Linked DNA regions of Homo sapiens: all the other regions are linked to region 2. Evidence: fine-mapped expression QTL. A gene starts in region 2. Each other region holds a variant in brackets. All regions are shown on one strand. Distances are between the middles of the regions.

Region 1 (8,173 bases), 47 kb after region 2:
GGCTCATAGCACGGTAGAGACCCACCCTGGGCGGCACCCCATGGATAACTGGTGCCCGCTGTCAGAATCAACCAGCACTAACCAGGGAGACAGAAGGACACCACACCTCCCGTCTCACGAGCACACACACGTGTACGCACGTGTGCACATACTCATGTGGGGGCATACACACACATGCACACACAGGACAGGGGCACCTCAGGCCATCGGAGGCAGCCCTGGCCTGGGGGATGGAAGCTGGTTCTGGCCAGCAAAGCTCAGTCATCGGCTTCAATCCGCAGACCCTCCGCCCGAACCTGGGCGCTCAGCCCCGAAGTGGAGGATCGAGATTCCAGTGCCTTCCTCAGGTCTCTGGGGAAGTGTCCACAGGCTCTCTATTCCCATGACTTCTGATCCCCCAGCAGCCGGGATGCAGGGGTAGGTCGGCTGGGTGAGGGCCCCTGGAATGGGGGAGGCCCTCTGTGCTCAGTTCCTGACAGTGGTGGGGTGGGGCTGCCTCATCACCCCCCTGCCTGCTCTCAGTGGAGGGAGAATCTCTGCCGGGCAAGGAGCAGAGGCTGGGTCCTCCTGCTGGCCTCCCAGAGGTGACCCTCGGTGACAGTAGGGGGCCACCCAGGGTATGCGGTGGGAGGGGCTGGGGGCCACAGGCAAATGCTCCACTGCTGTCCTGGGCATCTGCCGTGCCCCCTTGGTTGGTTCCTGGGTAACAGGCCGCTGAGGGCTCCACCTGCCGGGGAGGTGCACCTGGCTTAGCCGCGCAGCCCGGTGCCTGTGAAACACGGGCCTCATGGGTGTCTGTGGCTTTCCTGCCCATGAAAGCCATCCTGCAAGCTGGGCAGTAGGTGTGTCGGGTAGATGTCCACCCACCCCATGTCCTCTCCGGAGCGTGAGGTGCCAACCCAGCAAAGGCAGGACCCTTAGGGTGAAGGGTGGGCTTGGAACCCCCGCCAAGGGACTCGAGGGTCTGTGCCCGCAATTTGCAGTTAATGATGCTGTCTGCTCTCCTCCAAAGGGCAGCCCGCCTGCCCTCTCATCAGACTACATCCTGTGTGAGGTTGTTTTTATCAACGCGGTCAGCACTGCCCCTCTTCAACAACAGCGTCCCCAATGGAATCCCAGGGTCAGGAATGCGCAGCAGGCAGTCGGCAGAGCAGCAAGCGCACCGCGGGCCATATAAAGCAGGGAGAGCCCAGGGGCCATGCCTCCTGGACGAGGACCCAGAGCAGCTCTGCCCAGCCCAGCCCCGGAGCCCAGCGATCCACCAGCCAGCCTTCCTGGGAGCAGTCCCAGCCACACGGTGAGCATAGCTGCCCTGTCCCCAGCAGGAACCCCAGCTCAGGCCCTGCCCAGGCAGGAGCCAGGCATGGGCAGTCAGAGGGCACACAGAAGCACAGGGAGGGAGTGCCCGGAGAGGGGACACCAGTGCCTCCCCTGCCAACAGCCCAGAGCAGCACAGATTGGTCACGGCTGCCCTGCCAGGGCTGGGACCCAGCCTCACCCGTGCTTTTCCTGTCCCTTCCTGGCTGTGGGGCCTGAAGCCCTGACTCGCGCTGGGGCCGCCTGTCCCGTGATGAGCATCCCCACTTTCTACCAGATTCTTGAAGGGGTGCATGAACCCCTAAAAGGGGTGAAGGGCCACTCCAGGGCCTGCTCTGTCAGGCTGTCTCCTTTCTAGACACCCAGAGGCCACTCCCGGGTGGATTTATCCACCAGGATGCAACGGTCCCTGGTCCACATCGCAGTCAGCAAAGTGCTTCCTATGGGGAGGAGGGAATGGGCTGGGCCGCTGCAGAAAGTCACCTCGTGGAAGCCCCCACTCTGCCTGCGCCCTGATGGAAAGGTTTTCCTGGCAGCATGAGGGAGGTCACTCCATCCCTGGGGGACGAAAGCTTAGAAGAACTGGATTTGGGTAGAAAGTGGGGTTGCATGTATTATTTTTTTAAAAGCTTCCTGGCTGAGCTCGCTTCTTTGAAATGTGTTCGAGGGAGCCATTTCTGGAAAGGGCTCTGGGGACTCCTGTACTGTCTTCTCCAGGGCCGGTGCTCTCTAGTCTAGCCTCAGTTTGACTCTGCGGAGGACAAGCCAGCTCCAGCTCCCCCGCGGTCATTGTCAAAAAGGTTTTCTTTGCCAGACAAGGGAGCAAGTGTTACCAAGGCAGGTTCATTACAGGAGGCTGGGTTTCAGATCCCCCGAGTGCCATGTGGAGTACAGAGGAGGGAGTTAGGGCACGCCTTCCTGAGTCAAGCCCAGTTAGACCTGGGATTGAACTCTAGCTCTGGCACTGATAAGGCCATGAGATCTGGGGCAAGTCACCTCAGCTGTTTGAGACCGACACCACCCCTGTGAAATAGGAGGGTTGGGAGTACCTAGCAGATATGTATGCTTCTTGAAGAAGCCGTCTGGCCATTAGAATCATGAATCCAGAGCCTCCACTTTCTGGCTGTGTGGCCTGGGCACAATCTCAGTTTTTCTGACAGTTTTGTTGCCTGAAAAAGTGGGACTGGCCGGACCTACCAAGCAGGAGTACTATGAAGATGAAGTACAATCACATGTGTGAGCTCTTGGCTCAGAGCCTGGCAGACCTACGGTGCCCAGGCCCCAGTGGTGTCCACACACTCCTTCCCAGGTGGGTGTCCGAATTAGGCCAGGACCATCCAATCTGTTTCTGGCTTTCAGGAGCAACTCGTTCCCACGTGAAAGAGACATTAGCAGGATGTCCCAGCTAAACAGCATAGCTAGACCCATTTATTATCCAGTTGAACACTAAGGGAGATTGATGCTTTTAACTTTCCACCCCATGGCTCTGCAATGATATGGCCATTTTATAATAAGAGAAAAATGAGCATACATTTGCTGACTCTCCCGGGGCCGCCTGGGCACTGCTCTGCCAGCCAGCAGCGGTGGATTTACGGTGCTAAGCTGCCCAGGCACGCAGATCGTGGGGACTGCAGGAGAAGAACCGGCCTAACTGGCACAATCACCTCCTGATCCTGCTAATAAAACAGTGGCCTAGTCCCAGCACTGCTCGGAAGCCGGGCTCAGCTGAGCCCCCTGCTCACATCTACGCTGCCAGCCTGTCCCGGGGAAACATTTTGGTGAGTTGCGCTTGGCCACGTGTGCAGCCTGTCACTCTGCCTCTCTTTCCTCTGGGTCAGATGGTAAGGCCTTACCCCCTGATCTACTTCCTCTTCCTGCCGCTGGGCGCCTGCTT[C/T]CCTCTACTGGACAGAAGAGAGCCCACAGACGCCATGGGTGGCCTCGGAGCTGGAGAACGCTGGGCCGACCTGGCCATGGGGCCCCGACCCCACTCCGTGTGGGGTTCCTCTCGGTGGCTGAGAGCTTCACAGCCACAGGCCCTGCTTGTCATAGCCAGGGGGCTGCAGACATCGGGCAGAGAGCATGCTGGCTGCAGATTCCGCTTCGGGAGGCAGGACGAAGGCAGTGAGGCCACCGGCTTCCTCCCTGCTGCGGGGGAGAAGACCAGCGGCCCGTTAGGGAACCTGGCTGAGGAGCTCAATGGCTACAGCAGGAAGAAAGGCGGCTTCAGCTTCCGCTTCGGTCGGCGGTGAAGGGCCAGGACGCCTTGGAAGGATTTGCTTCTTGGACTCACCCCCATTGTCTTCACTCCTGCCTTCTCCCCCAGTCTCAAAGACCACGACACCCAGATGATGTAGGCTTGGTTACGATGAACGATCCATGGTAGGACAGGTTAGGTGTGTGCTTACTTTTGATTTCCAACTTTGCTGAAGCGAAAAACTAGGCAGTGTCAAAAAGGAGGCTGTCTTGGAGCCTCGGTCGTCCCAGCCTCTCTCTTCCCCTGGGGCTTTGACTCCGAGCAGCCCCCTGGCCCCAGGGGCACGGAGCTGAGGCTGTGGCTGGGCCATGAGTGTGAATAGCAGAGCGAGGCAGCGGGCTGAGTGCTTACAGTTGGGTAATCAAAGTTGTGACAGTCTCTATAGGCACGACTGCGGCTGACATCAGAGTGCAAATGAGTGCATTCCACTGGGTACAGAGGATGGTTCTGAAAGTTAAAAATGGGAAAAAAGAACCCGATCCCCTTCTCCATGCCATGAGCACAAGATCCCCCTGGCAAGAAGCCCCTGCTGTGGTTTGCCTGCCCCTCTGACCGCAGCCCTTCTCCGCGGCCCAGTGTTAGCCCGGCCAGGAGTCTCCTGGGAGATGCGTTGGGAAGGAATCCCGTTTTTGCTATAGCAAGGTTGCATTTCACATGTTCAAAATCAGAATATGTCGTGTGTATCTTTTCAAATAAAAGTTGTGACAACTGCAAAACCATACTGGAATGCTGGCCTCCCCCACAGTCTGAGTTCTGGGTGCCTTGCCTTTCGGGAGATGGAGCTCCTGTTGACTGGACCCAAACACCCCTCCTCTAGATCCCTGTAACCGGCAGTCGGTCAAAGGGGCGGAGGAACACAGCACATGTGCTTTTCACTTCCACTCGGCTGCTCCTTCCCAGGTTTCCTAAGAGCAAGGAACATTCGGAAAACAACTTCTCTGCCCCGGGGAGAGCCCACGCTCAGCCGGGAGTGGCTGCAGGCCCGGGGCCAGGCAAAGCATCTGTTTCAAACGCGCCTTTGGTGTCTCCTGCATCCCATCCCGTGTCAGAGGCGGCGGTCGGATGCTGCTCACTCCCGGGCTGGCTTCCGCTGCTGAGATGAGAACTTACATTGATGTTACTATGGCAACCCCTCCCCTCCTCCTTTCGAGCTGCAGCTTGCCCCTGTTCACAATTGAATAATTTCCCATTGAGCTGTCACAATTAATTGGTGGATTTTTATTAGCCTTTTAGAACCACACTGGGCTGGGCCCAGCTTGGCACCTTGGAGTATTTCACAGTGTTTTCCATGCTATTAGTGACTTATACTCCTCAGTAGCAGCTCTCAATCCTTGGCAGCCAGAAAGCCACTTCATTAAGGGGTGACAGATCTGAGCCACAAAGAACCAACCTGACTGGGGAGCAGAATGGGTGCTGAGATGGGAGAGAACACCAGAGTCAGAACATCACCCGGTATGAAAGCTGCCACCTTCTCCAGGAGCTCCTCACCGCTTCCCCATCGCTTCCCACACAGAAACTAGCCCCCCAGGCTTGGCGCATGTGCCCTGAGTCTTAGGGCTGCTGTGATGGGGACAAGACAATGATTCCTGAGGCTGGTGGAGGGGTGGGGCACATTGTTCTCTTGGGCTCTGCCACTGTCTGAGGACAGAGTGGTTCAGGATGCCTCCTGCAAAGGGATGTTGTCACTGCTTGCTAACATGACACTGATGGGGACGGACACATCCCCGGGGTCCTTGCTGTAAGGACGGCCCTGGCACAGGGTGAACGGACAGATTCGTTCACCACAGGTGTGCACACACACCCCATTCTGCTTGGCTTAAGGGAGGGGGAGGCAGTAAGCTAGATCTATCCCTCCCTTGGCTCATTCACGCAAAGCAGCCAGAGATGTGCTCACCAGAGACCGGGTGAAACACAGCAGGCTGAGGGCAGAGGGACGCCCTGACGCACGGTCCCCTGGCCACTCGTCACTTGCCAACTTCTGCAAGTGAGCAAGGAGCCACCCACAGCCAGTACTTTAGAGAACACCGAGGCTGAGCCACCCTGCACATTCCACAGGCTCTTTGGGGATGCACTGGCTGGTTGTTAATTTAGCAGGATTAGATTAACCTTGATGGAAAAACCTGAGATAAAGAACACGGGGGCGGGGGATGCCTTCAAAGCAGTGGATATGCTGTCATTATGCTTTTATCACTTTAAAAAACCCAACAAAGCTATTCTTTCCAGTTTGCTTGTACACTTGAGCTCAGTAGCCCTGAAAATCCGAACAATCAAGCTGCTAAGGGCACTGCTGTCAAATCAACTCCCGCTGGGCTTGGCTAAGCCTCCTCTTTAACCCGGTGCCCCGCGGCCAAGCCCACCGTGTCTGTCAAGGTCTTTGGGCCTCTCATGCCACCCCAGCGCCCCCTCAGCCCTTGCTCTCTCCTCCACAGATAAGATTACCCCTCTCCAGGAGGGTGAAGTTGAGACTCCAGAAAACATTTATTTTGGAATCAGAGAGATGAAGCTCCCCTGAGCAGTGCTGGCTCACTCCACCTGGCCCGGCAGTTCTAACTACTCCAGCCCAGAGCACCTGCGAGCTGCCAGCATCTGCTCGTTACATTTATCCAAGACACAAGGCGGTCTTCATCTTGGTGTGTAGATCTAAAGGTATTTAGCTATCAAGATGAATGGAAAACATTTGTCTTTTCCTGTATGTTTGAAATACTAATAAAAATATTTAAGAAAAAACCCCAAACAAAACAGGCTCCTGGGGACAGTCAGCCATAGACAGCTGCTGTAGTAATCAAGAGGGAAGCCACCTCATCCTAACTTTGCCCCAGTGCCAAAGACGCTGCTTGACAGATTTCACTGAAGACCCCAAACCTGACATGGTACTTTCCAGCTTCTGGGTAGGGAGCAGGGGCATGCCCTGTGCTGCTGGTGCTCCTCCAATCCGCAGCTCCTTGGCCCCTCGGAAATGCCCTCCCAGAAAAAGAGCTCAGAGATTTCCCTGATTACAGCAGTGATATCAACTGGAGTGTGGGGGCAGGGGAGCAAGACATTAGGTGACCCCCAGGGACGAGGGCAGTGCTGACAGGGACACTGTGGTCAGCCTGGTCTCACCTAATGTCTTCTCGTACGAGGACGTTTAGAGTTTGCTTCCCCAGGGCACTCCGTTTAGAAAGGCCTCCTGAGATGATCTCTGCGGCCCAAGGAGCTGGGCTGGCTGTAATACTTGGCTGCTTCTCTTCCACTGTGGAGGGAGAAATCCGGCCCTGGGCACAGTTCTCTCCTGGTCCTGTTGGGGCTGTCTGCACTGTCTACTGATTAGACTGCCGTGGTAGGCACCAGCTGGTACATGTTGTGTGACCTTGGCCGAGCTGCTTGACATCTCTGAGCCTCTCAGCTTCCTTACCTGTCAGAGGAGGACAGTAACAAAAACTCTCTCATTAAAAAAAGTGGTGGGCTTGGCCGGGTGCGATGGCTCATGCCTGTAATCCTAGCACTTTGGGAGGCTGAGGTGGGTGGATCTCGAGGTCAGGAGATAGAGACCATCCTGGCTAATATGGTGAAACCCCGTCTCTACTAAAAATACAAAAAATTAGCCGGGAGTGGTGTCGGGCACCTGTAGTCCCAGCTACTTGGGAGGCTGAGGCAGGAGAATGGTATGAACCTGGGAGGCGGAGCTTGCAGTGAGCCGAGATGGCACCACTGCACTACAGACTGGGCGACAGTGTGAGACTCGTCTTAAAAAAAAAAAAAAAAAAAAAGTGGTGGGCCGGGCGCACTGGCTCATGCCTGTAATCCAAGCACTTTGGGAGTCCAAGGTGGGCGGATCATGAGGTCAAGAGATCGAGACCATCCTGACCAACATGGTGAAACTCCGTCCCTACTAAAAATACAAAAATTAGCCGGGTCTGGTGGTGCGCACCTCTAGTCCCAGCTACTCGGGAGGCTGAGGCAGGAGAATCGCTTGAACCCAGGAGGCAGAGGTTGCAGTGAGCGGAGATTGTGCCATTGCACTCCAGCCTGGGAGACAAGAGCGAAACTCTGTCTCAAAAAGAAAAAAGAAAAAAAAATTTTTTTTGAGACAGGGTCTCACTCTGGAGCTGGAATCCAGTGGCACGATCATAGCTTGCTGCAACCTCCACCTCCTGGGCTCAAGCAATCCTCCCACCTCAGCTTCCTGAGTAGCTGGACTACAGGTGCCACCATACCCAGCTTATTTTTGTATTTTTTGTGAGATGGGGTCTATGTTGCCCAGGCTGGTCTTGAACTCCCGGCCTCAAGCAATCCACCCACCTCAGCCTCCCAAAGTGTTGGGATTACAGGCATGAGCCACCTTGCCTGGCCTTTTAAGAAAATGTCCAATACCTTAGGCTGGTGTTTTGTAAATAATAACAATGGACCTCGAAGGCAGGACTTGAAATGACCTGGAAACTGCTGGGTGTGTGCACACAGGTGCATTTTTCTGGGGCTGGGATCCAGTTTTCATTAGGTTCTCAGGAGGTTTTGTGACCTAGAAAAGGTTAAGAAACCACTGTCTTGGAATGGCTAGACTAAACTAAGCTCTATAAGCTCAGGTGACACCCATGAAAGATCCCCATTTGGGAGATGAGAGGC
Region 2 (8,173 bases):
GGAGACCATCCAGTCATTCAGCTCCCCGTGCCTAACCGTGAGGGGTGACAAGCCCATTGAATCACTGCACAGTAGTTTTCCACGCCACAGAAGCCAAGATACATTTATTTTTAATGATAAATGTGACTGTCAGAGTCAAGTTGAAACAGCTTTATGGCGAGAGCTGAGTACCCTTGGCAGTGCGGGGCAGAGGCTGAGTGGATGGGGACCAGAGGTCCCGACCTTCTGGCCAGCCAGTCCCCCAGGCCCCGAGAGACTGGCACATTGGCTATTCTGCCCACGTCCGCTAAGCCCTGCTGCATGCTGGCTCAGCACGCTCACCGGGTGGCTCAGGCCCAGCTCTGGCAGACGAAGAGGCACCGAGGTATTGAAGAAAGAGAGATAGTCTCTGGAAGTGCACACACTAGGGTTCAAATTCTGCCCCACCGGCCAGGCGCAGTGGCTCATGCCTATAATCCCAGCACTTTGGGAGGCTGAGGTGGGCAATTCATGAGGTCAAGAGATCGAGACCATCCTGGCCAACATGGTGAAACCCTGTCTCTACTAAAAATACAAAAATTAGCTGGGCGTAGTGGCGTGTGCCTGTAGTCCTAGCTACTTGGGCGGCTGAGGCAGGAGAATCGCTTGAACCCGAGAGGTTGCAGAGAGCCAGTGAGCCGAGATTGCGTCACTGCACTCCAGCCTGGCGACAGATCGAGACTCCGTGTTAAAAAAAAAAAAAAATTCTGCCCCACCAATGGCTGTGTGGTCTTGATTGAGTTACTTAACCTCTCTGAGCTTCTGTTGCCTCATCTAGAAAATGAGGCTATTAATAACACTTACAGGTCTTGGGTGAGGATTACTTGAAATAAGATGGTATTGTTAATGGTATTGCTGTATCCAGCACATGGAAATGTTTGGTAAATGGTAATTCCATATTGATTTTTTTTTTTTGAGACAGTCTCACTCTGTCGCCAAGGCTGGAGTGCAGTGGCACGATCTCGGCTCACTGCAACATCTGCCTCCCAGGTTCTAAGTGATTCTCCTGCCTCAGCCTCCGGAGTAGCTGGGATTACAGGAGTGCACCACCACACCTGCTAATTTTGTATTTTTAGTAGGGATGGGGTATCACCATGTTGGCCAAGCTGGTCTCGAACTCCTGATCTCAGATGATCTACCTGCCTCGGTCTCCCAAAGTGCTGGAGTTACAGGTGTGAGCCACTGTGCCTGGCCCCATATTGATCGTATCATCTTATTAATTACACAATTACCCAGGTCATGTAATTTACCTTTCTGAATCAGTTTCCTCATCCACAAAGTGGGGACAATAGTATTCACTTATTAGGGGGCTGGGAGGATATGAGGTGCCCAGCACAGCGCTGAGCGTGAGGGTGCTTCCAACAGGTGGCTGTTGGTCACGGCTGGCACCCTGAATGTTGTCCCCCTATGTCCCTTGCTGCTCTTCCTTGTCTCCCCATGGACTATTTTTCCACCCCTCCCATGTCGCCGTACTGCCTGCCCTGCACCCACTCCCTGCTAAGGGAGGGGTCCTGCATTAGGGCCCCAGCAGCCATGCCCCCACATTGGACCTGACCAAGGTCTGATGGGTTGGTACCTGACCAAGGACAGCTGTCTTTGGCCATCTGCCACTTATGATTGATATGCCTGGTTCAGTCCTAGATAGGAGTTGCCCATTGGTGGGGCCATCATATCCAGGTGGCCTTGGAAAGGCAAAGTAGGAACAGGCAGAATTGGTGAGCCAGAAAGAGGAAGGTGAGGGGATGCGCAGAGAGTGAACAAGTTACCAGGCAACCTCGAGTCTAATACCATGCAGCCTCCCGGTCCTGTGTTCTGGCACCCTGAGGTGCTGGCTCGTCCCTGACAAGGAATGCTCAGTCTTGGGCTGGCTGGAAAGCCCTGATTCTGTCCTGTCCCACCTGCTGAGCACAGCCCAGCTCGCCCCCAGTGCTCTGTGGTCATCAGCCTTGTCAAAGGGAAATCCGAGGGTGGAGGGCCTGTCTGCTCTGTGGGGTCGGCTGCCCTTTCTCTCGCACAGATCTTGGCTGTGGGTCAGCACTGGCTTCTGGGATCCACTTCCATTTTATTCCTCTCCACCAATTCGGAGGCTCCAGTGAATGGGGGCGGCCCTCCCTTCTTCCAGAACGATGTCCTAAGTGTGTCTGCTGAGTGCAGTGTGTAAAGCGCTGAGCAGACGCCTGCAGGCTCATGCCAGTCCTGCATCACGGCTGACCCTTCTCCTGGGGTGTTGAGCAGAGGCGTCAGCACAGAGGGGGTGACAGAGTGAGGCCCGCTCCCGAAGACACACACGTAAGGCACTCCCGCAGGCTGAACCTGTGGCTGAGCAGGTGAGATGATTCAACCTCCAACCTCCTCCAACACTCCCAGCAGGAGCCGCTAGGTGGCCCCCGCTCACCTGTCCAACCGCGCTTCTGCAGGCCCGGGAGGCGATCCTCCAGAGCGTCCTCCGGTCCTCCGGTTTGCACCTGCCCAGGTACGCCCGGGTCACTCCCCTAGCTCCGCCTTCCCTTCTGCGGCCCCGCCATTGGAAATGCCTTTCCTTCAGCACCCAGACTTCTGGATGCTGCCTTCATGGGCCTTGGGGGCGGGCTCACACCCCTCCATCCCAGGATGCCTCCCTGACTACTCTGAGCACATCTCCAAGACCTCCTCCGTTGGTCCTTAGCACCCCTCCCGTGGGTTCTCAGTTCAGCCCCCCACCCCCGCTCCACCCCCCAGGGTGATCTTTCATCTGTGCACAAATGCGTCTGGAGTTTACATCCTCTCGCCAAACTGTGGAGTCAGAGCCTTGCATTTCCGCCACCTGCCCGCTTTGTGCCTGTAACTGCACAAGGGCCTGCAAACCTCGCCACTCCCCACCAATAGGCAAGTCCTTGTTTACGAGGAAACTGAGGCTTGGGGATGACGTGGAATCTGCCCAAGGTCACAGCAGGAACATCTGAGCCTTGCCCTGCTCAGGTGCTGTGATGCACTGTGGCAGAGCCCTTCTGAAGCGTGTGCAGTCAACCCTTTGGCTTACATGGGGAAACTGAGGCTCGGAGAGGTATGTTGCTTGCCCTCAGCCACACAGCCAGGGCCCTGTGCCCTCCACCACATCCTTCTTCCCAAGTCTGAGGGCCCTCTAGATCACCTGCTGACCCTCTTAATTCATAGGAAAGGCCGAGGGGCCAGAAAGGGCCAGAGGCCAGAATTGGAACCTGGGTCTCCTGACTCCCAGCCATTGCTGTGGGATCCTCTCCAACTCCCGGGCAGCCTCAGTCCGGGAAGCCGGGATCGGGCCGTAGGTGAGGCCAGCGGTTGTCCTGGAAGGAAAAGGCGGCTGGGGACAAACAGCCGGTGGTTTGTGAACCCAGCGCCTGGCGGGTGGCAGTCTCCTCGGATGGCACCGGGCCACAGGGTCCCCCGCTCCGGGGTCCAGGGAGTGCCCCAGCCCAGGCTGGACGCGGCCCCCACCCCCAACCAGTCTGCCCCGCCAGTGCCGGACGCGTAGAGGGATCGGGAGAGGGACGAAGATGGGGCGACAGACTGGCAGCCAGTGGGGGAGAGACGGAGACGGTGCCAGGGAACAGCGCGGCGGCCAAGGCGCCCCGGGAGCCGGAAAACAGCTTTGGGGAGAAGCGGGGGCGGGGAACGGGGGTCTGTCTGGAGCTGGGGGAGCAGAAAAAGATGGGGACGCAGAAAGGGGCGGAGGAGGGGCGGCCGGCGGGCTCGGCGGGGCGGCGGGAGGGGAGCGCGGCGTCGGGCAGTGTGGGCGCCTCCCGGTCAGAAGCCACAATAGCAGCTCGTTCGCCGCGCAGATTAAGGACTTTGTCAATTACCTCCGAAGGCCGCTCCGGGCGGATTAAATGCTTTTAAAAGTGCTGCTGGTGGGAAGGGGCAACTAAGAAGCCCCCTCCTGGCACAAATCCCCTCCCGGCGGAGGAGAAGGCGGGGGCTGGGACCACGCGGGGCGCGCCGGGGAGCGCGGGCGATCGGCCGGGAGCGCGGCCGAGCGCGGAGCGGCTGGTACTCGCGACCACAGCGCCGGCGGCTGTGGCAGTGGTGGGGACCCCCATTTCGCCCACGGGCCGCCCGGGCAAGGGGGCGTCGTGTGGGCTTTCCGACCGCGGGCGCGAGGGCACGGGTCTGCGGACGCGGACTGGGACGCCCACCGGCCAGGCTCACGCGTCGGGGTCCGGCGCAGGGAGGTCCCCGGGGGCTGGAGACCCCACAGCTGGGCGCACTTGCCCCGGGACCTGGACCCAGACCTCGGGGGCCCGCAGGGGGCGCACCCCACCGAAACTGCCCCCGGCGCAGCCTGGGTCTTGGGGCGAGCCCTGCGTCCTGAGCCGGGAGGGAGCCGGAAGGAGCGCCGCGCCACTCCCCGGAGACGCCGAACCGGCCGGCGGGGGCGCCCTCGGGGCCCGCCCCGCGCATGGTGACTTGTGTGAGTCCGGTCCGGGAGGAAGTTTGTGCAGAGGCGCCGCCGGGGGGCTCTCAGGCCCCTCCGGGAGCCAGCAGGAGCCGGGCCGCCCGCGGCTGTTTGCTGCCCTCCGGCCGGCCGCGTTATCTGGGGGCCAGTTCGGCCTCCTTTCCCTAGGTCTTTTCGGAGGCGGAGTTTAGTATCCAAGTCCGCGGGTGTGAGCGCGCGCGTGTGTGTGAGTGTGTCGGGGGAGGCCGAGGGGAGCAATAAAAAGCAAAGAGAGTCCGAGACCAGAAAAGATGCGGAGATTGAGAAGGAGGGAGGAGGGACGAGGGAGGAGAGAGAGGAGCGCGCCGGGGAGGCGCCGGAGCCGGGAGCGGGGACGGCGCGCAGCGCGAGCGGCGGGCGTTGGGCTGGCGGCTTTCGCGCTCCCGCTCCTGCTCCCGCCCGCACACAGCGGCGCGCTCATCCTCACACGCCCGCCCGCTCCCGGGCCGCCCCGGCGCGGGGCACAGAGGCGGGGACCCGGCGGACAGAGCGCGCCCCGCGCCCGCGCCCGCGCCCACCCCGTCTCCTTTGCGCTCCGCAGCGGCGCGCCTCGCCCGGCGCCCCCGCCAGTCCTGCCGGAAGATGGTCAACGACCGGTGGAAGACCATGGGCGGCGCTGCCCAACTTGAGGACCGGCCGCGCGACAAGCCGCAGGTACGCTCGGGCGCTGGGACACGGGGCCTGGGCGGCTGGCCAGGCGGTGGCCGCTCGGGCCGGCGGGGCGAGCACCCATTGCGGGGGCTGGAGTTTGGGGCGCACCCCTTCGAGGCTCCGGAGGCCCGGGCCGGGATGGGGACCCTCCTCTCCTCCTCCCCGAGCCGAGGCTTGAACTCGAGGTTCGGTGGGGGCGGCACCCCTGCAGGAGCCACGCGCGCTGCGGGCCAGGTCTCCCGCGTCCCCGCACCCCCAGCAGCCCCCTGGTGCACGCGGGTGCAGAGGGAGGCGGGGACTTACAGTTCGCTGTGTGTCCACAGACAAATCAGCCCCGTTGCTGAGTCTCCGTTTCCTCACCTCTACAATGGGCATCTTAACTACCCACAGAATCTCCACTCTGGGCGCTACCCTGTGCCAGGCACCTGGTCCTGAACCTGACCCCCTGAATCTCCTCTGCATCCTTCCCTTTAGCCAGGGCCCTGCATACAGTAGGGGATCAATAAAGATTCATCTCCTGCAGGAACGCTGGGTATTGTGATTTTCTGACTTTAAGACAAGGAAAGCAGGGCTCAGAGATGGTTGGCTCCTGCCTGAGGCCACGCAGCTCTGTCGGGATTTGAACCCTTGTCTGTGTGCTCCAGGGCTGACTCATTCCTCCCTTCCTGCTGCCTCTTCAGGGGCAGTGGAGGTGGGGCTTGGAGGGTGCCCAGGGCTGTGCGGTGGAAGCGGGTGAGGGCAGAACACCTGGGCTGGCCAGCAAGGGGGCTGGAGTCCCGAAGCCAAGGCGGAGGGGAGCCCCAGGGCTGCCCCAGGCTGGGCTGCCAAGGGACTGGGGCAGGCAGGCGAAAACGAGGAGGCCGCTCGCTCACCAAGGAGAGGAGAGAATAGGGCTGCCCATTTTAAATTTTAAATTTCTTCCAGACAGATGTCATTGGGGAAGGAACAGTTCGTGCTTGCAGCTGCAGGAGGGGGCGGCACGGGCAGCCCTTGGTGGTCCCTTCCTCTCAGGAGCTGCAACCTGCTCATTCTTCCTGGTGTGACACTGCCGTGGCACAAGGGCCCAGCCCTCTGCGGTTTGCAAAGCCCCTTCCCATTCATCGGCACTACCTCACTTCTCCAAACAGGCTGGGGGCCAGTGCGTTCCCACATCACAGACCAGGGATCAGAGAGGTTCGGAACATGCCCAAGTCACACAGCACGTTGGCAAGAGAGTGGGGATTCAAACTCTGGTCTAACCACACACCTATCCCACTGCTTCTCCGGGGTGGTCGCGCCCCTCTTTTAGGTCAGGTCTGCACCTAAGCCACCCCAAAATAACAAGTCCCCTCCTGCTGAGATCTGACTTCTCCCCCTTAGCAAGAACTGTCTTAACTTCTAGACCTGTCCTCCAAGGCCATCCCTAACCTGGCATACTGTGCCTTCCCATTGGTCCCTTACAGGCAGTGACTGTTTGTTATTTGCCAACCCTGGGCCCCACACCACGCCGCTCCATTTCCAGATCTTTTCTGTGTCATCTTGTTTGCTTCCCCAGCCTTACACAAACACACACACACACACACACACCCCTTCACTCAGGGACACCCTACATATACTCAAAATCAAGCTCAAATGCTGCCACCTCCTCCAGGAAGACTTCCTGATGCCCTGTGGCTATGTCTCTAAGTTCTAGTAGTGTTTAGCCTGTGCCACTCAGCTGCCTTGTCCTGGGCCCCTCCTGCATCAGGAGATCCCTTTGGACACACCCTCCTCTGGAGCCCATCTCTGCATCTCTCCCTGGGCCCAAGCTCCATTCTTTCCAGGCAGCTCAGGTCAGGCATTGAGAGCGTTTGCTGAATGGCACTGCATGACGCTTCGGCCAGGAAGAGCCTCAGGAGACGGCCAGCAGGCACTGGTCTGTCTCAAGGGGAGGTGCCTTCTGGGGAATGTGTTTGAAATGTGGCTTCAAGGCCTCCAGGCCGGGCCCCGCCTTCCTCTGCTGCTCCCTGGGGGCACAGCTTTCAGCCCCCACACAGCCCAGCTGTCTGCCCCTTGGCATTGGAGGAAGCTCGAGGGCTGTTGCTCCAAGAGCCTGGGCCAATAGCAAGCACCCGCTTCCCCTCCCCGCCCGTTTGGTGACCCAGCATGTAGACAGGCTGTTCCCTGTGCCAGCTCTGGGCTTGTTTGAAGCTTCAGACAAGAGGCAAGGCCTTTCCTGTGGCCACTGTCAGAAGAAAGAGAGAACACTGCTTGCCCTGGTTCCCTTGGGCCTGCCCTCTCCTGGGCCAGCCTTCTCTCCTCCCTTGTGGCCAGGTTTGTCTCACCCACTGACATGCTGTGTGGCCCTGGGTAAGTTACTCCTCCTCTCTGGGCCTGGGCTTCACCATCTGTAAAGTGGGAACAGCAATCTTCGCTTCCTCCTCATTTCACAAGGGCTGTTATGGGGGCCACGTGACATACTGGTGTGTTTTGCAAACTGCAAAGCACTGTGTACTCATGAGGAGGATGCCTCTCGCAGCAGCCTGTCCCTTCCACAGGCTGGCTGTGTCCCGGTCTCCTCTCTGCCCCCCAGGAAACGCCATCTGAACATCTGGTTCCTACAAACGGGGCCTGGCCGAGGTTCTTTAACGGGGATTTTCCTCTGGGAGCATAACGCTGACGCCGCACTCCAAGCACCAGTAGGTCACAGGCCACGACTAAGATTCATTTCTTAGTCACAGCCACCCTAGGAGCTTGGTGGCAGGAGTGATGAACCCATTTGACAGATGAGGAAACTGAGACTAAGAGCTGGAGCTGGGACTCAAACCTGGGTCTTCTTGGACAGCAGACAAGTGCCTAAGGGGTGGCTGGCCGCCCTTTCTTGGTTCAGCCCACTCAGCCCCAGTTGGGACTGCAGTGTCCAGGCTGTGTGGTTCTCAGGGTACCGAAATCACCCGCTGTGAGTGGGTATAGCCCAGGTCCGGAGGTCCTGAAGGACCTTTGTCCAAGTGCAGCCATTTCTGGGAAACGCCTTGGGCCCCATCTGTCCCAGCCCTATCCAGCCTCAGCTACTCTTTGTCGGGCGACCTTGGACAA
Region 3 (8,173 bases), 53 kb before region 2:
CGTGTGCACGCATGTGTGTGTGTTCCATGTGTCTGATATGTGTGTATGTGTGTCCAATATGTGTGCGTGTCCAGTGTGTGTGTGTGTCTCTGATGTGTGTGTGTGTGTCCAGTGTGTGTGTGTCTCTGATGTGTGTGTGGGTCCGATGTGTGTGTATGTGTCCCATGTGTCCGATATGTGAGTGTGTGTGTCCAATATGTGTGTATGTCCAATGTGTGTGTGTCTCTGATGTGTGTGTGTGTGTCTGATGTGTGTATGTATCCAATGTGTGTGTGGGTCCGATGTGTGTGTGTATCCGATGTGTGTGTGGGTCCGATGTGTGTGTGGGTCCGATGTGTGTGTATGTGTCCCATGTGTCTGATATGTGAGTGTGTGTGTGTCCAATATGTGTGTGTGTCCAATATGTGTGTGTGTCCAATGTGTGTGTGTCTCTGATGTGTGTGTGTGTCCTGTGTGTGTGTGTCCGATGTGTGTGTGGGTCTGTTGTGTGTGTGTGTCCGATGTGTGTGTGGGTCCGATGTGTGTGTATGTGTCCCATGTGTCTGATATGTGAGTGTGTGCATGTGTGTCCAATGTGTGTGTGTGTCCATTGTGTGTGTGTATGTGTCCGATAAGGAATGTGCCTGCGTTGGGGACCTAGGGGGCTCCTGCAGAGGCCTGGCCTTGTGCTTGGGCTACCAGCAAAGGTAGCAGGCTCCCTCCCGGAAGCCCACCTACTAAGGGTTAAAACCTTCCGGGAGAAGAAAGAAGGGAGAAAAACCCTGTTGTTCTGATTTGCTTAATGAACGTTAATTAAGAAGACAGAAGAGAGCTGATTCCTTCAGGACAGAGATGAAAGGCCTGTTAATTAAATCTGGGGAGATCGGCCAGGGCCCTGCTGATCTCTCCTGACAGCTCTGCAGCCTCGTTGGAGCCCAGCGTTGGGGGCACAGCGCAGAGGGGAAAGGCAGCTCCCCCTGCCCCCACCCTGCAGCTTTGGAGCCCAGACTCACTGTGGTATCTTGGGTGGGGCTCTGCCCTTCTAGGGCGGCTCAGTTCCCCATGTGGACAGCAAGAGCATTGGTCTAGGTGGTTCCCAGGATGCCAGGTCTGGCTCAGAGGCTCTGTTAAGCCTGTGCTCTCTGTCCGCATGCCTGGGTCTCGATCTTCCCTTCTGTTCGGTGGGGAGACATCACTTGCTCTGCAGGCAGGCTTCAAGGGCAGGAAGTGAAAACTGGGAGGTCTGCCAAGGGCTTGTGGACAACTGTGGAAGAAAGAAGTTAGCAACTGGCGACATCAGCCCCCAGGATCCCACTGCTAGGCCCACGCCCATCTGTCTGTATTGCAGCATATCCCTGGGCACTGCCCTGCCCCTCTGAGCAAGGACAAGGTCACCCCCTGAGAGGCCTCCTGGGAGTCAGACCTGGGCTGAGTGCACCACCTCCACAAGTAGTTACTGTTATTCTCCCCATATTGCAGACAGGGAAACTGAGGCCCAGCCAGAGACAGCTCCTTGCCCAGGACCACTCTGCTCGTCAGCAACAGAGAGCCGTGTACACACCCCAGTGTGCCCGGCCCCAGAGCCTGTGCGCCTTTCCACTTTGCTCTCCATTCATTCATTCATCCATCCATTCATTCATTCTATTACTTTAGGGGACATTTGTTCTGTGCCCTCCCTGGGCTGGTTGCTGAGGTACAGGGGATAGACTGTCTGGGACCTCATGGTGCTCCCCAGAGAATCAGGAAGACAGACAGTGACCCAGGAAGCAACCTGGTGAATTAGTTAGTGACTGATCACGGTAAGAGCCGCAAAGGAAATAGACACAGGGCTGGGATGAGCTCCATGAGGGGGTGAGCAATCAGGGAGGCTTCTCAGAGGAGGTGACAGCTCACTGGAGACCTGCAAGATGAGATGGGAGGCAGGATGGAGAGGGAGCTGATGGGAGCTGACAGGGGGCCCCTCAGCTGTCACCCTCACGGAGCATCTCCTCCTACAGAGTTAACAGATTTAGACAGGCCAAGGGACATGACTGGCCTCAGGGCATGTCACTACTCAGTCTAGCAACTGTCTCAACCTCCCTGCTGTGTTCAGCCTGAGGTGGGTCTGGGCCTGGATGAGTCAGCCCTGGGCAGCCCTTCAAGTTCAGGGGGTTCAGAAGAATAAAGGATGTCCCCTTCTCGGTGGTGCAGGGGCCACAGGCTGGGCTACAAAGGAGATAAACGTGGTTATCTATCCATTCATTCATTCATTCCTTTATCCACTGGACAGATGTTTACTCAGCCCACACTCTGGGCCCTGGGCTGGACACAGGGGACAGAGTGATGAATAATGATGAAACTGTCCCTGCACTTTAGGGATCCAAGAAGCTGTTAATAACAACACAAGGCTGTAAGCACCAGGCAGTGAGAGTGGAGACCTGATGCCTAACACAGTCTGGAGAGATCAGGGAGGGCTTCCTGGAGGAGGTGGAGTCTCAGCTGAGACCTGGAGGAGAATGGAGTATCCAGGAAAAGGGGTTGGGGAAGAGCATCCCAGGCAGACAGCAGCATGTGAAAGGCTCAGAAGCGGAGGATGGGGGTGGGAGGATGGGCATTTGAGGAGTGGGGAGGGTGGAAAAGGGGAGCCAAGAAGGGCCCAGGACATCCTGCTGGAGAGCCTGGACTTCACCGGGGGGCCATGGGGAGCTGTGGGAAGATTTTCTCTTGGGATGTGCAGGGAGATTGGCCCGCTGGGGGTGGTGTGGAAGCAGAAATGGTTTGGCAGCTGCTGCAGGGACCCGAGGAGAATGAGGTGGTAGCCTAAACAGGAGCAGGGAGGAGCTGGGGTCTGCAGGACCCGGGAAGCAAACTGTGGCCCCTGGGCATGGGGGTATCTGTGCCAGAAGGCACTGGGGACAGAAAATCACCCAGTTGGGCTGGCGGGGTGGTGAGCAAAGCTGAGGCTGGCTCTGGGTCTCTGGCTGGGCCCTGGGTGGGCGTGCTGTGCTCAGACAGGGTCGCCGGTCCAGGAGCAGGCCTGGGGGAGATGGGGAAGCCGTTGTCAGTGCTGAAGTTCTGTGCCCAGAGGAACCCAGGAGGCCAGACTTCTCCTGGCTCGGCCCCTCCCACGCTGTGTGTCCTTGGGCAGGTCCCTTCCCCTCTCTGGGCCTCAGGGTTCCCATCTGTATGATAAAGGGAAGCAAAGGATGTCCTCTGAGGCCTGCCTAGAGTGGCTTCCCTTTCCCAAGGCTCTCCCAGGGGTCCAGGCTGTCCCCCCACCAGTGAGAGGCTCCAGCCCCAGCCTCTGGCCCCTGCTGGCCCCCACTGCCACTTCCTCTGGGGACCCAGGGTCCCCAGCAGCTTCCGTTGGGCCTGGCACTTCCCTATAAAATGCTGGCAGCCACGTCCACACTGATACAGCACCCCCTGCCCAGTGCCCAGATACGGCCCCCACAGCTCACAGTGCCACGTGTCACCCACAGATGGGCCCGGCCAGGGATCCAGGAACCCATCCCGTGGGTGGATTAAACACCTCAGGCCCCTACAGTGGGCTTTGTTGTACC[T/C]CTGACCCCACCACAGACGAGGAGCCCTTTGAGGGCAGGCAGGGAGTGGGTCTGACTCCTCCCCTGGGCAGGTGGCAGGGTAGATGCTCACAAAAGGCAGAGGGGATGAATGAAAGCTGACAAATGAATGGGAAGTGGACGGAAGAATGGACAGAAAAGGAATGAATGAGTGAGAGTGAATGAATGATGGTGAATCAATGAAGCGGGAGTCAGGGGTGAATGTGTGCTGCTTCAAATGAGAGCCTTTCCTCCCTGGGTTCTCCAGCGGCCTCTGCCCCAGCTCTGCGGGCCTCACTGTCCCTACAGGAGGCACTACTTGATTGCCCCCTACCCAGTTCTGGTTTCAGTGACCACACCTGCCATCCTGTCCCCTTGCCCACTGGGCTGGCTGCAGCCACACGGGCCTCCTTCCCGATCACACAGAGCACGTTTCCACCTCGGGGCCTTTGCACTTGCTGCTCCTCGTGCCTGGAACGCTCTTCCCACACTTTCTTCTGCATCCCTTTATGGAGAGGCCGTCCCAGACCCTCCTGCTGACCTTCCCCAGGACTCCCCTGCCACTCTGCGGGTTTTCCCCCCTAGCCCTCACCGCACCTGCTGGGCATGTTTTTGCTTGTCTGTTTGTGGCCCGTCTGCCCCCTCAGGCCATGAGCTCGGCCTCGCTTGCTGCTGTGCGGCTGCAGGAGGAAGACACTGGTCTTCGCCAGCAGTTCTCACTGCAGGGAGGCTGTCCTTAAACAATAATTTCGTTTCCGAGCTCTTTCTGCTGAGGACAAGGAAACAGCAATTATAAGTCACCAGAACCCAGTTATAACCCAAGTGTAAGTCAGCAGAACCCATCCAGGGACGGGAGGCACATGCACAGCTCCGGCTGCCCTAGGGCCTGGCCATCTGAGCGCCACGTGCACTGAGCCTCACCTGAGCAGGACCCCAGTCCGCACCAGGGGCCTGGCACGACCCTGCAGGGCCCCCATTCCCCTCGGGTAAAGGGGATCTCTTGAGCTGAAGCTCCTAAGACTCCAGAACTCACGGGCCTCTTCTAGACCCTCAGGCATCCCTGGCCCCCCCATCCCAGGACTTTGCACCCGCGGGTCCTGAAATGCCCTTCTGCCTCTTCTCGCCAGGGTGGGGTGGCGGCTGACTCCTGCTCCTCCTCTAGGCCTGGGGTGATGCCACTTCCTCAGGGAAGCAGTCCCTGGTGCCCCAACCCTGTGACACCTCCCCTGCTTCCAACTTTGTGGCATTTCTCACACTTGTCATTAAGTGAGTATTTCATGTCCCTCTTTCCCACTTGACTGTCAGCTCCTGGGGACAAGAATCCTGGGGCTTCCTGCTGTGTCCTTGACATACACCCAGGAAGGATGTGCACTAGGTGCTCAATAAATAGTGCAGAATGAAAGAACAAGTGAATGGGTGAGTGTGTGAAAGGAGGGAGGGAGGGCAGAAAGCAGGCAGAAGGCTGGGAGAAAGGAACTGGCCAGCGAAGCTCGGGGAGGGGGGTGGCTGTTCTCCCAGGACTGATGGCTTTTAAGCGGGGGAGTGAAGGCCAAGGGCAGGGAAGGAGCCAGCAGGCCGGTGACAGGGAAGTGATCTGCGAGTGCCTCGCCCTTCACGTGGCTTTATTTTGAAAACGTGAACTTTACAAATGTCAGGGAAAGGCGGGATTCTCCGCCTGGGACCGCCAGGAGCCGATTAGCATTCCCGGCGATGCGCAAATGGGGCCCTGCATAGGCCGCGGGAAATTTCTGCCGCCTGCTGGGGCTGATGTGAAGGCCAGGCGAGGGGGCTCAGAAAATAAAACTGTAAAGCTGCCAAGTCTATGCCTGCCCAGGAGGCACGGCCTGGTGGAGGCCCCTGGGGGACAGAGAGGTGGATTCAGTATAACCCCCAACCCTCCGCGGGACAGGGTAAAAATGGGGGCCACTCAGAGTAGGTGGGGTTAGGGGGCACCCCCCGCTGTGTCAGAATCAGAGAGGTGACCCCTCCTGCTCACCCCCATTGGGCCAGGCTCCGTCCCCACCACCTGCCATACAAACCATCCAGATTCATCCTCAAGATGATCTTATGAGGGAGGGGCGTTGCCCCCAGGCTGCAGATGAGAACACTGAGGCTCAGGGAAGCAGAGGGCTTTGCCTGAGATCGCTGATCCTGAGAGGGTCAGGCAGGATTGAAACCCAGTTCTCCAACTCTCTTAGCAGCCTCCTGGCCCTGTCCTTCCCCACTTCTCCCAGCTTCCAGGACAAACCCCATTTAGGACAGTCCACAGCCTCAGTGTCCGGCTAGGTCTCCCCCTGCTTGGGGAGCTATGTGAGGACTGCCAGAGCTTTCACATGCACGTCGCTCCCTCTGCTCGGAGCACCCTCCCCACTGCAGCCCCTTGTCTTCCCCTTCAGGTCTCCGCGGAGATCAGTCTTCTCCATAGTTTATTGTCAGTCCCCACCCCCGTCTCTGCAATGGGGATATTCTTTGCAAATTGATTTTCATGCACACACGTGTCTCAAGGATGTGCTGGGGGCTATCGGGTTTCCACTGGGATCTGTGAGGGGAGGACGTGGGAAGGGTATCTGTGTGTTGGTGTGTGTTTGTGTGTGTGTACATGTGTGCATGTTGGCGGCGTGTGTGTGCGTGTGTTGTGGGTGCGTATGTGTGTGTGCACGTGGTGTGTGGCTGTGGGATGTATCTGTGTGTGTGGCAGGACCCATGGGGCCCTGAGGGGGACAGGCCTGGCGCAGGAGCCCTCAGCACAGCCAAAGGAGGAAGGCGGCTGGGACTGGTGGCGGAGCGAGGCCCGTGGTGGTCACTGGAGCTATGCAGGAGCGGAGCTGTGAGCTTGTTGTAGATAAGTCCCAGCCTGGCCCAGGGTGCTCTGGGATCGGGGAGACACAGGATGGGAGCACCTGGAAGTGGGGGGCTCCAGGCCAGTGGCAGGTCCAAGACCACGGGGAGGGACTCAGCAGGAAGTGGGCGGCTCCAGGCTAGTGGCTGGCCCAAGAGCACGGGGAGGGACTCGGCAGCCCACTTGAATCTCGGAGCCCAGGGGTCCACCCGAGATGGGGACCGAGGAGAGGCTGTGGCCTCTCCAGCTAAGTCCTCCCACAGGCTGGTGTCCGGTCCCCAGCAGGGGACAGTCCTGGGGATCAATGATGACCCCAGGCTCAGCCACTGAGCCTCTCTGTGACTCCGAGGGCAGGGCCCCGCGAAGGGCTGGGCCGCTGTCGGCCGGTTCGCGCATCCCCCGCACCTGGCACGGCTAGCACGGTCCCCGTCCGACTCTGTGCAGTGGGTGCCTGGCCTGTGCCCACGCATGCAGGGCCTCCCGCCATCCTCCAGGCAGCCCTGGGACAGAGGCTGCTCTCCTGTGCTCAGATGAAGAAGCGAGGCGCAGGGATGGGGGACTTACCGAGGGTCCCAGGGCTCAGAGATGCTGGTGCTTGGTTTTTGAAGATGTGGTTTGACTCCAGAACGGAACTTCTGGCATGCCCGTTGGGCATGGAAGCAGGAAGGTGCCTGTGAGAGAGCCCGGCAGCCTCACCCTGTGGGGCGTGGGGTTCCCATGGGAGAGGAGGGCAGGGGGAAGTCCTCAGTGCTCTCAGCCCACAGAAGGGCTGGGACATGCCCTCCTGGGCCCTGGGCAGAATCCTCCAGGATTCCTGCAATCGAGTGGCAGAGCGGCATGGGCTTGGGTCCTGAGTATGGACACCACGGCCCAGTGGCACGCAGAGGGCAGGCAGGGCAGCCCGCCAACGGAGGCCCCTAAATAACAGGGAGTGACCGGCACGTCTGCTGCTCATCCCAGCCGGGGGACAGGCTCCGGCTTCATAACGTGTGATCGATGGGCCTAATATGGGACTGGAGACGGCGGGCTGGCAGCCCCGGCCTGGCCCGCCGGCTGCCATTTGCCCACATATTTATTTATTTATGCATTCTCCTCCATGGCAAAAGCCCAAAAACAATAAAAGAAATTGAATTGCATATCAGATGGGACATCAGAGGGAGATACGGCCATAAATTGCACTGTATTTATTCCATAAATATCAGCACCTCCCGAATCACCAGTGCCCGTTATGAAGTTATAATCAGGAATCTGGTCCTGTGATGCTCGCCGCCAGCCCCTCCCCCGCTAGACAAACAAGCCAGGTCCCTGAAGTCAATAACCACTTCCCCAGGCCACCTGTCCCCATGAAGGGACATCTGCCCATCCCAGTTGCCCCACCCAAAGTGAGGGACCACAGGAAGGGCAGGAGGTGGCTGGAATTCCAGGTGGCCCAGGCCTGGATGTAGCGAGCCCGGAGGGAGCACAGTTTCTCCAGGCCCTCTGTCTCCCTCCTGCCCCCCAACCGTACTACAACCTGGTTGGAGCCACCATCCTCTCTCCATTGCCACTTTGTGTGTGTGTGTGTTGGGGGAGGGGGGGTGTGTGTAATTTACATTCAGTGAAATGCATGCATTACAATTATGTAGCTCAATGAATTTTTACATGTGTATGCACACATGAGACCACAGATCAAGGCAAAGAACATTTGTCACTCCCAGAAGTTCCCTCATCCTTCTGCCCACTGCCATCGAGATCACCTCTGTCTTCTATCACCAGAGCACAGTCAACAACTTCTAGAACTTCAGACCAATGGAATCCTATAATAGGGACTCTTTTG

Evidence for each region. PIP is the estimated chance that this variant, and not a neighbour inherited with it, causes the effect.
Region 1: its variant is fine-mapped to the expression of FIBCD1 in whole blood (TOPMed, PIP 0.99).
Region 3: its variant is fine-mapped to the expression of FIBCD1 in whole blood (TOPMed, PIP above 0.99). The same link has a PIP of 0.9 or more in blood mononuclear cells.

What each region holds. Positions count from the first base shown.
Region 1 is chr9:130,888,821-130,896,993 of GRCh38, reverse strand. QRFP (pyroglutamylated RFamide peptide) reads left to right here and starts at 182. Exons shown (of 3, transcript NM_198180.3): 1 at 182-417; 2 at 1,013-1,297; 3 at 3,156-4,287. The coding sequence starts at 3,156. The coding sequence ends at 3,566. RefSeq lists enhancers at 687-1,373, 1,374-2,061, 2,850-3,364. The variant C/T (reference allele first, on the strand shown) is at 3,212.
Region 2 is chr9:130,935,485-130,943,657 of GRCh38, reverse strand. It overlaps FIBCD1 (fibrinogen C domain containing 1), which reads left to right and starts at 4,411. Exons shown (of 7, transcript NM_032843.5): 1 at 4,411-5,122. The coding sequence starts at 5,051. FIBCD1-AS1 (FIBCD1 antisense RNA 1) reads right to left here and starts at 3,312. Exons shown (of 3, transcript XR_930398.3): 1 at 3,216-3,312. RefSeq lists silencers at 172-345, 2,262-2,556, 4,325-4,534 and enhancers at 2,114-2,333, 3,779-4,709.
Region 3 is chr9:130,988,601-130,996,773 of GRCh38, reverse strand. No RefSeq gene overlaps it. Among named protein-coding and RNA genes, the nearest start is that of LAMC3, 16 kb to the left of the region's middle. RefSeq lists an enhancer at 1,130-1,686. The variant T/C (reference allele first, on the strand shown) is at 3,522.